Regions from separate parts of the Homo sapiens genome. Here region 2 is linked to region 1. A link means that fine-mapping ties the variant in region 1 to the expression of a gene that starts in the linked region. Tissue or cell type: unexposed skin. Region 1 holds a variant in brackets; the other region holds the start of a gene. All regions are shown on one strand. Distances are from middle to middle.

Region 1 (5,398 bases):
AACACTGCATGTTCTCACTCATAAGGGGGAATTGAACAATGAGAACACATGGACACAGAGAGGGGAACATCACACACCAGGGCCTGTTGCGGGAGGTGGTGGGGTTAGGGGAGGGATAGCATTTGGAGAAATACCTAATGTAGATGACAGGTTGATGGGTGCAGCAAACCACCATGGCATGTGTATACCTATGTGACAAACCTGCATGTTCTACACATGTATCACAGAACTTAAAGTATAATTTTTTTAAAAAAGAAAATAAGCTTCTAAAGTGGATTGATGTTAAAATAACTAATAAATTTTTTTTAAAAGATGAAGGCTTATTACAAATGAGACGTCTCTAGTATTATCCCTAACATATTAATTAATATGCATTTAACAATTTTTTCTCTCCAAAAACATTATTAAAATGATGTTCATTATTTAGAAACCGAAATTGTTAGATTTCTGTGACTAAGCAGTTGAGCCAGAAACCAGTATTTGAGCACTCACATTTTCCAAACTATGGATAAAATAAACATTAAAATTCCCTGTGTTGAAAGTCTGAAGAATCTTTTATATCACTTAGTAAAAAACAGTATTTCTTAATGTTTGTTAAGCTCCTGTACGCCAGGGACACTAGTAATTTCTCCCAACATCCTGCCATGAAATGGAAGACCAGCCAGAGTTTAATCTGGCTTTTTAGCTCCTATTTCAGTATTTCTAACTTAACTGTGCCAACGTAGTTAAAGAAGATATACCTGGGCACAGTGGCTCACGCCTGTAATCCCAGCACTTTGGGAAGCTGAGGCTGGCGGATCACAAGGTCAAGAGTTCGAGACTAGCCTGGCCAACATGGGCAAACCCTGTCTCTACTAAGAATACAAAAATTAGCTGGGTGTGGTGGCATGTGCCTGTAATCCCATCTACTCAGGAGGCTGAGGCAGGAGAATCGCTTGAATCTAGGAGGCGGAGGTTGCAGTGAGCCGAGATCGCACCACTGCACTCTCCAGCCTGGGCGACAGAGTGACACTCCATCTCGGGGGGACGTGGGAGAAGAAATAAAGAAGATATAAAAAATGTTATAGGTATTTCTATTCACTTTTACTATAATTTCATAGCAGAGCAGCTGTTATAAATGAAATATCAACAAATTTTTAATCAACAATAGAACTTTTAGAGTATTAGAAATTTTTAAACTTTTCTTTGCATTTTGATTAATATGATAGTGCTATTATTACTATTCTTAAATAAAATATATTTTACTATCTTTCTGCCTAAGTAAAATATTTGATAATAAACTAAAAAATGCATTATTTTTCTCATAAAATTACAGTATAACACTTCCCAAACCTATAGGTAAGTTTTCTGTGAGACTGTTAAAAGTAATTTTTATTGTAGATTGTTGTGATGCTGCTCCCAAACATATCTGAATCATATTTACGTTGGCTAACATGAGAAGATACACACATTTTCAAAAAGAATCAATGTACGGTGCTTTTATGACTCCCCTGACTCCAAGTCACCTTACCTATTTTATTATTGCTAGTCTACCAGGCATTTTTAATTTCATTGGTAAAACCAGTCCTGATACAAAATATATTTGTATTATAAAATAATAAATGAACTACTGCATCACTATTTAATCACTATTTATGTTTCTCTGTTTCTTCCTTAACTGGCATGTTAAGATCTTCATGGCATGTATGCATTTTCTCAGAAATATTATATGTAGTCTGGAACCAGGCGCTATGGTTCTATTTGTGCTTATGGAAAAACTTATGATTGCCAAATGTCAGGTTTTTTTTTTTGCTTATTAAGAGTGAAGCAGATAAATGCAAAATAAAAACTTGAAAAATTTCCTGCTATTAGGATTTAACTTTTTCTTGTTGCTTCTGTTGAAAGTCATCATATCCTAGTTCTAGGTCACCATATACATTCATTCATATGTAGTTTATTACAAAATACATTTTAACTTCTAGCTGAATTTTCTTCTGACTTTTTCCATCTGGTAGGCTTATATTACAGTTAATGGACACATATAATGGTTATATTATGTTGTTAACTGAAACAGCTATAAAATTAGTGAACTATTTAATTGCCATTTAAATTGGTGAAGAGTGGCCTCTCTTTAATTGGGGAAGATGTATTTATTGGATTTTTATTTAGTACTTTTAACTTGTCTGGCAGCAAATGTAAATCAGCCAGGAAAGCATAATTCTATTAAATGTAGCTGTACTGCTTTAAGAGATACAAAAATCTCTTAATTCAGATAACAGATTTTACATCAGGAAGTGTACAGATTACTAAATTATTCACAGTTCTAAATACTCCAGGAATGAAACTGTAGACAAAGATTTGAAGACTGCTACACGAGCTTGCCTATTGTTTTACCCCCTCAGGGCTCTTTGGCCCTGCAGCAGCTGAGTAGTATTTATTGTATTTGCTGGAACAATACTGGGTCTTCCTTGCATTCATTCTGAATTCAAACTCTAGTCCAGAGGGGTGATCGATATAATTTAGACTTCTATGCAGATACCCTTAATTGGCAATTATAAACAGGATTCACATCTTTAGGTATGGCATATTTCAAAACCAGTTTTCACCCTTTTTTGTTTATTTATATTTAGCATTATTCTTTTGGTTACTAGATAGCATTTAAATTACAGAATGAATTAAGGAAAAGATTGATTATGGATTTTGGCAAAAGCTGTAACACTGTTTGGTGAAACCTTAGAATGTAATTTGTTTCTAAAATCACAGTTGACTTTAGTCTTTTTCCCATTTCTTATTGATACATAATATTTTACATATTTATGAGGTATATGTGTTTGTTCCATGCATAGAATGTGTAATGATAAAGCCAGTAAAGCCAGGGTACTTGGAATATCTATCACCTTGAGTATTTGTCATTTCTTTTTTTTTTTTGGTTTTACTTTAAAAAAATTTTTATTTTACTTTAAGTATCTGACAGAGGTCTAATACCCAGAATCTACAATCTGTTATTATGTATCCTTACATAATTAAGGATTATGTACAAGAAATAAACAAATTTACA[A/G]GAAAAAAACAACCCCACCAAAAAGTGGGTGAAGGATATGAACAGACACTTCTCAAAAGAAGACATTTATGCAGCCCACAAACAGAAAAAAAAGCTCATCATCACTGGTCATTAGAGAAATGCAAATCAAAACCACAATGAGATACCATCTGAAGCCAGTTAGAATGGCGATCATTAAAAAGTCAGGAAACAACAGATGCTGGCGCGGCTGTGGAGAAACAGGAACGCTTTTACACTGTTGGTGGGAGTGTAATTAATTCAACCATTGTGGAAGACAGTGTGGCAATTCCTCAAGGATCTAGAACCAGAAATACCATTTGACTCAGCAATACCATTATGGAGTATTTGTTATTTCTATGTGTTGGGAATATTTCAAATCCTCTCTTTTAGTTACTTTGACATGTACAAAATATTATTGCTATGTATAGTCACCCTATTCTGCTATCAAACATTAGAACTTATTTCTTTTCTTTATGTTTGTACCTATTGACCAATGTCAAAATCATTTTAATAATGTAATAAATTATTTATCTAAAAAATATTGAGAGTGAGCCTAAGATATAGAAAGTTAACACTCAAACTCTATGTAATCCATTCACTTGAGGTCACGTCCATATAAATAACTGACTATCAACTTTAGAATTAAATAGGGTGGTAGAAAGTCACCTCACTAGCCTAATTACATTATTTTATTTCAGCTTTTGATCTAAGTGGCACTTGTAATTTAGGTGCTTTTTGTTTTCATTGTAAAAATGGACTATTCATTTAGCTTAATTTTGCTCTCAACTTTGTGTTTTTACTTTAATATTTTTCTAATAGCCAGATCTTTTTTATATTTTAATTTAAATTAATTTTAAATTCAACATTGTGAATGCAACTTGTTTAAAAAATTCAAGTAAATATATAAAATAGAATAGTCTCCTTCATATCCTTACAACATTTCACCTCTCCCATTGTACTCTCCAACCCATAGGTGATCACTGTTTTCAACATGCTGGATACTTTAAGGTTTCATTCTATTTATTCATTGACTTGTTCATTCATTAATCAAACATTTTAAGTACTATGTTTCATGCAGAGTATCAGCTCCATTTGTACATGTCGGAAACTTTTGTATACTTTTATGACATGAATTGAGTCACACTATGCAGCTTGTTCTGTAACTTAGTTTTAGATTTATATTTTCAGTAAGTTTTTTCATAGAGGTACATATTGATAGAACTAATTTGCATCTTAAATGCGTTAAAGTGCATTAAAGACTGCATAGACAACATAATATGTATGTAAACTAGTGTATTTAATTGAGGGGCATTTGAGTTGATTCCTTTTAATTTACTATTTACAAAGAATGCTACAATGAAAAGTTTGCCCTTGAATGCACATATGTCAGTATTTCCATAGAGTAAGTAGACTTCTAAAAGTGAAATTTCTAAGTCAAAGAAGAAGCACATTAATAATTTTAATATTTTGATAAATTGCCATCTCCCAAAACTACTCCCATTTTTAATTCTAATAAAAGAAATAGTGGTTTCTGTTGTCTGTACCCTTGAAAGTGCTGGAAAACATCAATCTTATTTATAGGTATCTGAGGAAAAGATATAATTTACATTTGTTTTAATTTTGATGTGATCTTCCATCTCTCTAAACTCCACAATAGTCAAGATGAAGGAAAAATTTTCACATATTACTGGACATTTTTATTTTTTGTGACTTCTTTGTTTATATTGTTTCCTTATTTTATTATTTACTTACTTGCCTTTTTATTATTTATTTTTAAGAGTTCTAAATATATTATGGATATGAACCCCCCACTACAATTTACCACGTAGTTTCTCTGAGTCTTGTGCTTATCTTTTAGCTTTATGGTATTTTTACTCTACAGATGCTTTACGTTTTTATGGGTTTTTTTTCTTCAATTTTTAAAAAGTATTGCTTCTGGTTTGATATCTTGTTAGGTTATACTTACATATCTTGACATTCTGAAATATTCTTTTATAAATGTTGCTAAATCTCTTAAGTGTGCTTTAACATTTAGTTATTTATTTATGAATTCATAAAATACCTATTGAATGCCTGCAGGCTGCTAGGATTTGTGTCAGATGCAATGTAGAGCAATCCCAACTGCTCTCTGGGTAACTATGTTCTAGTGGGCTAAAGGACTGGCATCACATATGCAGTTTAATGCATGTAGTTACACATTGAGGAAAGTGCAATGAAGGAAAGGTATGCCTGGAAATTATTTTAATTTTATTATATAACAGGAATGTATAGTTTTTTTTTTTTTTTTTTTTTTTTTTTTTTGGAGACAGAGTCTCGCTGTGTCGCCCAGGCTGGAGTGCAGTGGCGCGATCTTGGCTCACT
Region 2 (5,398 bases), 130 kb after region 1:
GTGCATGCCTGAAATCCCAGCTACTCGGGAGGCTGAGGCAGGAGAATTGCTCAAACCCTGGAGGCAGAAGTTGCAGTGAGCTGAGATCATGCCACTGCACTCTGGCCTGGGCAAAAGAACGAGACTCCATCTCAAAAAAAAAAGAGAAAATCATCAACAACTCAACTGCCATCAAACAGGAGGAAGGGGAAAGGAGGAGTGCGTTTTTAATGGGCACAGAGTTTCAGTTTGTGGAGATGAAAAAGTCCTGGAGATAGCTGGTGGCCATGGTTACAGAATGATGTGAATGTACCTAATGCCACTGAACTACAGATTTAAAAATGATCAAAATGGCAAATTTTTCTTTTATATTTTACCCCAATAAATACTGAAAGCCTACTGACAGGTGATTGCTGTGAGGAGGCTATGTATGTGTATGCATCTCTCTTAATTCATTTGACGAGTCCATTTGGACTGGCTCTGAGGACTTTTTTGTATATTTTAAAAATTGGTACAAGTTGATGTTGACTTATGTTGGTAACAATTGTCACATGAAAAAGCCTGTTTTAGACAAAAAGTGAATGGTTATATGAGTGTATTCTGCTGCAAAATTTCCAGAAGAAAAAGAAATCATGAATATTTTTAAAATTTCCTTTCCCTCTCATTTCCCTCTTTTGCTTTATATGTGTGGTGAAAAAGAAAGCTATGAACTGAGGCTGATTTCTGAAGATGCTGAAGATACTCATAAAGGAACAGAGTAGGAAGGAAAATTAGCTTCTAAGATCAGAACATTAGGCAAGAAATCAACAGACATGGGTTCTAAGACTTACTTGGTGATTTATTAGCCCAGTCTCTAGGTGTCCCTGAGCATCCGTGTTTTTTGTTTTTTGTTTTCATCATAAAGTGGGGAAAATTATGCTTTTCCCATTTGACTTACAACGGGTTAATGTATGTAATCATGTTTTATAGATTGTAAAGTGTTCTAAAAATTTAAGGTGACATTATTGTATCTACTGGCACTACAATAAACAATTGCTTTCACTAATGATTTCCATGGTATAAAACGAATGAAGGATCTAAATGAGGAGCGTTGCTCCGTTCTGTGTTGATTATATGCCAGGTTATGTCAGCCTAGGGATGAGTTGAAGCAGAGAGGCTGCTACAATTTGGCTTTTTGATTTCCCTTATGGTTTCTCTCTCTCAATCTGTGCACTGAGCAAGCAGCTCTCTCAAAAACCCTTGAATACACATTGATATATATTCCAAAGAGATAGGTTTTGAGTTATTTGAACTCCAGTTATTTTTGGACAAAATTCATTTGAAAAGAGAAAATAATAACAAATGATTATACAAGTAAGAGGACTAAACATTCATTTATGAGAAATAAAGTGGAATGCAGTAATTGTGTTTCCTCTAAATAGCTGCTTTTGTAATATTTAGAGGGTGATGTGCAGCATGCTACTGGCCTGCTTTAAAGAATGCATGTGAAATACAAGCTATAATGCAAGAAACGTATGCTATGGATAATGAGGATGTGAGCTATTTTTCATTAAAGGCAGAGAGTTACAGTTATGTCTGTGTGTGTGTCCTTGTGTGTGTGTGTGCCTCTCCGTGTGTGTGCTTGTGTGTGTCTTTCTGTCCCTCTGTGTGTGTTTCTGTCCCTGTGTGTGTGTGTGCTGGCTGATTTGGAGATGAAGACAGAGGCAAGGATCCTTTCTTTCTACTCTAGGAAAGGTTTATGCTCCTTGAAAGAGATACTGTTTATTTTCTTGCTATACCTTTTGTGAAGTATTGAGACTCTTGGACTGTGCCCTGTCACTCAGTAGGCTGAAGTACAAATGCTAATTATCGCCAGACTGCAGCATTGTGATTTGCATTCCAAATCAGCTTGCAGATTCCCATTATAAATTGCTATCCTCTTGTTTCTTATCTAAAATTTGTTCCTCCCTTACATCACTCTTCTCATTCCCTAACACTGACCTTTAAAGAAATTCCCTTTCAAGAGATTCTCATTGGAAACCAGCAGCTTTCGTGGGCTATAATCATAACAATAAATAACAAAGACATCAATAGGGTTTTTCCTTCCAGTGGTTTTCTCCCTTTTACTTAAGAGTCATATGGCACTAAGTAAAATAATTACTTAAAACATGTATCTCTCAGGCTTAGAGCTTTATACTCACTCCTTTGACAGCCACGCTTCTATTTCTTTTTAAATCTCAAAGGTGTGGGATTACAAGTCCTGTCTTAGTAATAAACTTTTGCAGATAAACCCTGAGATGGTATAACTGCATCCTTTCTTGGCACCTTAAATCAAATTAACTAAATACTTAGTGAGGAGAGAAAAGGAAAACACAGTTTTTTTGCAACGTATCTGACTGGGTGAGAAGCCACTGCTGCAGCATAAAGAACCGACGGGAATCTGGGCTTTCCCACTCTGGAATGAAGGGGGGAATTACGGGTTGGTGGTCGGCTTCATGTTAGGAGGACACCCCTCCATCTGTTCACAGCTCAGCCTGTTTCCAATTTAAAGCCCAGATTTCAATACAAACCTCAATTTCTTTTCCCCATTTTAAATGCAAAGCAAGACTTGTGAATCATAGTGTCTCTGCTCCTGGGATTCAGACCAAATTTCCCCCCAAAATTCTCAGGCTATTTGTTTGAATACCTGCTTACAGTGGTACACAATGGGCAGCTTTGAGAAGAAAAATTGATAATCTTCACGGAAGAGTAATTTGAATGAAATTACACTTGACAGCCTGTCTCCAAGCAAACAAGAGGAACGAGGGAGCCTGAGCTAAGCTCTGAGGACTTGCCCAAGCCACTGCTGTTGGAGCTTCCCAGGAAAAAAAAAAAAAAAAAAAAAAAAAAAAAAAAAAAAAAACCCCCAGTTTTTCCAACATCTAATTGAGCTTTTGATTAATTCCGTGTACCAGATTCTACTGAAGAAAGGTAGCCATGGAAGAGAATATGGAAGAGGGACAGACACAAAAAGGTACTGTGCTAAAAGCGTTTATTTGTAACTAAGTAATTATTTTGCAGTTTCCTTGTTTGCTTTAGACACTTGCCAGTAAGGCTAATGAATGTTTCTCTCTTGGAAGGCATTTTGTTCCTTCCTCTCCTTTAGTCTGTTCCTCACTTGCAGTAATGTCTGGCACGAATGTTGTCATTATTTGCAAATCTTTCAGATATAAGTACCGAAATGCAGAGTCGAGTATTAGTGAGAAGAGCATTGCGGTATTGTAGTGAACTATTCCTTAGACCAGTCTTTGTTAACCTTCATTTATTTCGTGATTTCACACTTGCCGAGCTGGGTCAAGGGATCCCTAGTGTGAGCCACAAATACAATATTTGGAGTTAGTTAAAAATTTGGTGATGGAACCATTATCCATATCTTTGCATGGACATCTGATAGAACAAAGACCAAGACCATTAATTATCTTTTGATTGGTGCACCTTTTTAAAACAATCTTTAAAAAATAAAAACTAAAAACGAGGATGCAATATAGGTTTAAGCAGATGGAGCAAAAGTTCATAAATTTTCAGGGTGTATGGAAGCGTTAAGATTTTCCTTTCTATATAGTTGACTGTAATCAACTTCTGAGTAATAATGTTAAAGGAAATTTTTTTATGTGTTTTTAAAGCTTGTCTAGGTATATCTGGCTGTATGAGTTAAAGTGAAATTTCCATTTTTGAAGGTTGAAATGGTCAAATATTGGTAATTTGGAATGATTCAATCAACTCGAGAATTGTTTTAACGTGTCAAATGGTAGCTTCAGAGGGAGCTAGCTTTCACCCCAGATAGGCAGCGTTTCTCTCGTCTGCTGTCGGGCTTATGTAATGTCAGAGAAAATGGTCTCATTTTCTTAGTACTGAAGCAGTAACACAGGTAATACTACATAAAGGTAATATTCAAGAGTAGTGTTGAAAAAGATTCAGCTGTCAAAGTTAATTTCAAATGTATATAAAGGCACTTATCGTAAAAAACTGTATTTTATGTGATAAAATATATAGGGTGGAAGCACAGTATAGTTACCATATTTTTAGCCATTTAGCTATGCTGGGTTTCTTCTCTTAATGTACACACACATACTTTGAGGCATATATGGTGCATACACACACACACACACACGTAATAAAGGACCATCGATATTAAATACATGAAGGTTTTATATAAGCAAGAGATAATAGATAAGTTGATTTCCCAATTTTAGTCCTTAGTACCCTTATTCATGATAATCTGTAATAGAAACACAAAAATCTACATTAATAGCATGTGATCTATTTTTAAATTAAAAAACCTCAGCTCCCTTTATTATATGCACAAATAGCCCAAGTTTTCATCAGTGATTGTAAATGGGACATTTTAATGGTAATTTCTGTTCTTACAAGACATCTCAGTGGACTATTTTAACTTAGAATAAATTACCTTATGACAACATCTTTTTTGTAATACCTAATAATGATACTTATTGGCCGATCAATTTGCTTAAGGAAAGATAAACAGCATTTTAAATAGAGGAATGATATTCATTACACTAAATAAAACCTTGAGTTAAATCATGGATTGTGGTAACAGGTTGAATGTGTCTGAGCAAGCCTTGGTAGATGCGGGAACCAAGAAAAATGATGTAATTAGTTGTGATGTTTTTTTCTCAGGTAACACTGAAAAGCTTTCTTTTATGGGGGTGGAGGTGGCTATGCCGTGAGGGGAAGATTTCTGTCACAGTGGGTTTTTCCTCATTAATATATGCACCAGCAGCAGTGGTGGAAAGCAGTTTTAAATCAGAAAAAACGTTTAGTGGTCTATCAGTTTGTAAATGTATATGAATACAATATTTATGATTTAGGTTTTTTTCTTAATTGAGAAAAGAAGATGTAATTTTCTTCACTCTTGATCTTCTGTTCCTCTCAATTACGCCTATGACACCTTTTCTATATAAGTTTGTTGTTAGAAAGTTACATTTGAATCGAAATGCTCTGTCGATATGTGCGTGGGTTGTAACTGTGAAATTACTGGAGGAGCAATTTGACAAGCAGACAAAATCGTTACAGATTTTTCAAGAGTTTAGGTGGAGAGACTTAATGATCTGTCTAAAGAAAAGCAGCATTTTGTGTTAGTTCTTATCCTGTTTTTCTTAAACTGCATAGGATTTTCTTAAACAATAATTCAAATAGCACAGAGTTTTCTTCCATTTGCAAGAAGTAAGTGGCTTTTCAGTCTTTTCTTAAAATTTAGACCTTGTCTTTCCTGTTACATGTCACCAAGACTTAAAATTCACATCAGTGTTTACTCATATGACCTTGCAAATTCAACTAGAAGGTAAAATTCAGTGGATTCATTAATTAATTGCAATTTGCTATGTTCGAAAATATATATACTTGGTGTTTAAGCATTTAAAAAGATCATCCGTCTTAAGAA

Direction of the effects. Alleles are on the strand shown, and positions count from the first base shown. SD is a standard deviation of normalised expression in the study named.
For the expression in unexposed skin of the gene that starts at base 2,898 in region 2, allele G in region 1 goes with a higher level than allele A (small effect, 0.34 SD a copy in GTEx).

The links. PIP is the estimated chance that this variant, and not a neighbour inherited with it, causes the effect.
Region 2: GPM6A starts here. The variant in region 1 is fine-mapped to the expression of GPM6A in unexposed skin (GTEx, PIP above 0.99).

What each region holds. Positions count from the first base shown.
Region 1 is chr4:175,936,247-175,941,644 of GRCh38, reverse strand. The region is part of intron 3 of LOC107984113 (a long non-coding RNA gene); the gene reads left to right. It also overlaps a transcript of GPM6A not described here. Among named protein-coding and RNA genes, the nearest start is that of GPM6A, 130 kb to the right of the region's middle. The variant A/G (reference allele first, on the strand shown) is at 3,038.
Region 2 is chr4:175,809,764-175,815,161 of GRCh38, reverse strand. GPM6A (glycoprotein M6A) reads left to right here and starts at 2,898. Exons shown (of 7, transcript NM_201591.3): 1 at 2,898-2,971. The coding sequence starts at 2,935. GPM6A-DT (GPM6A divergent transcript) reads right to left here. Exons shown (of 8, transcript NR_125901.1): 8 at 2,973-3,302.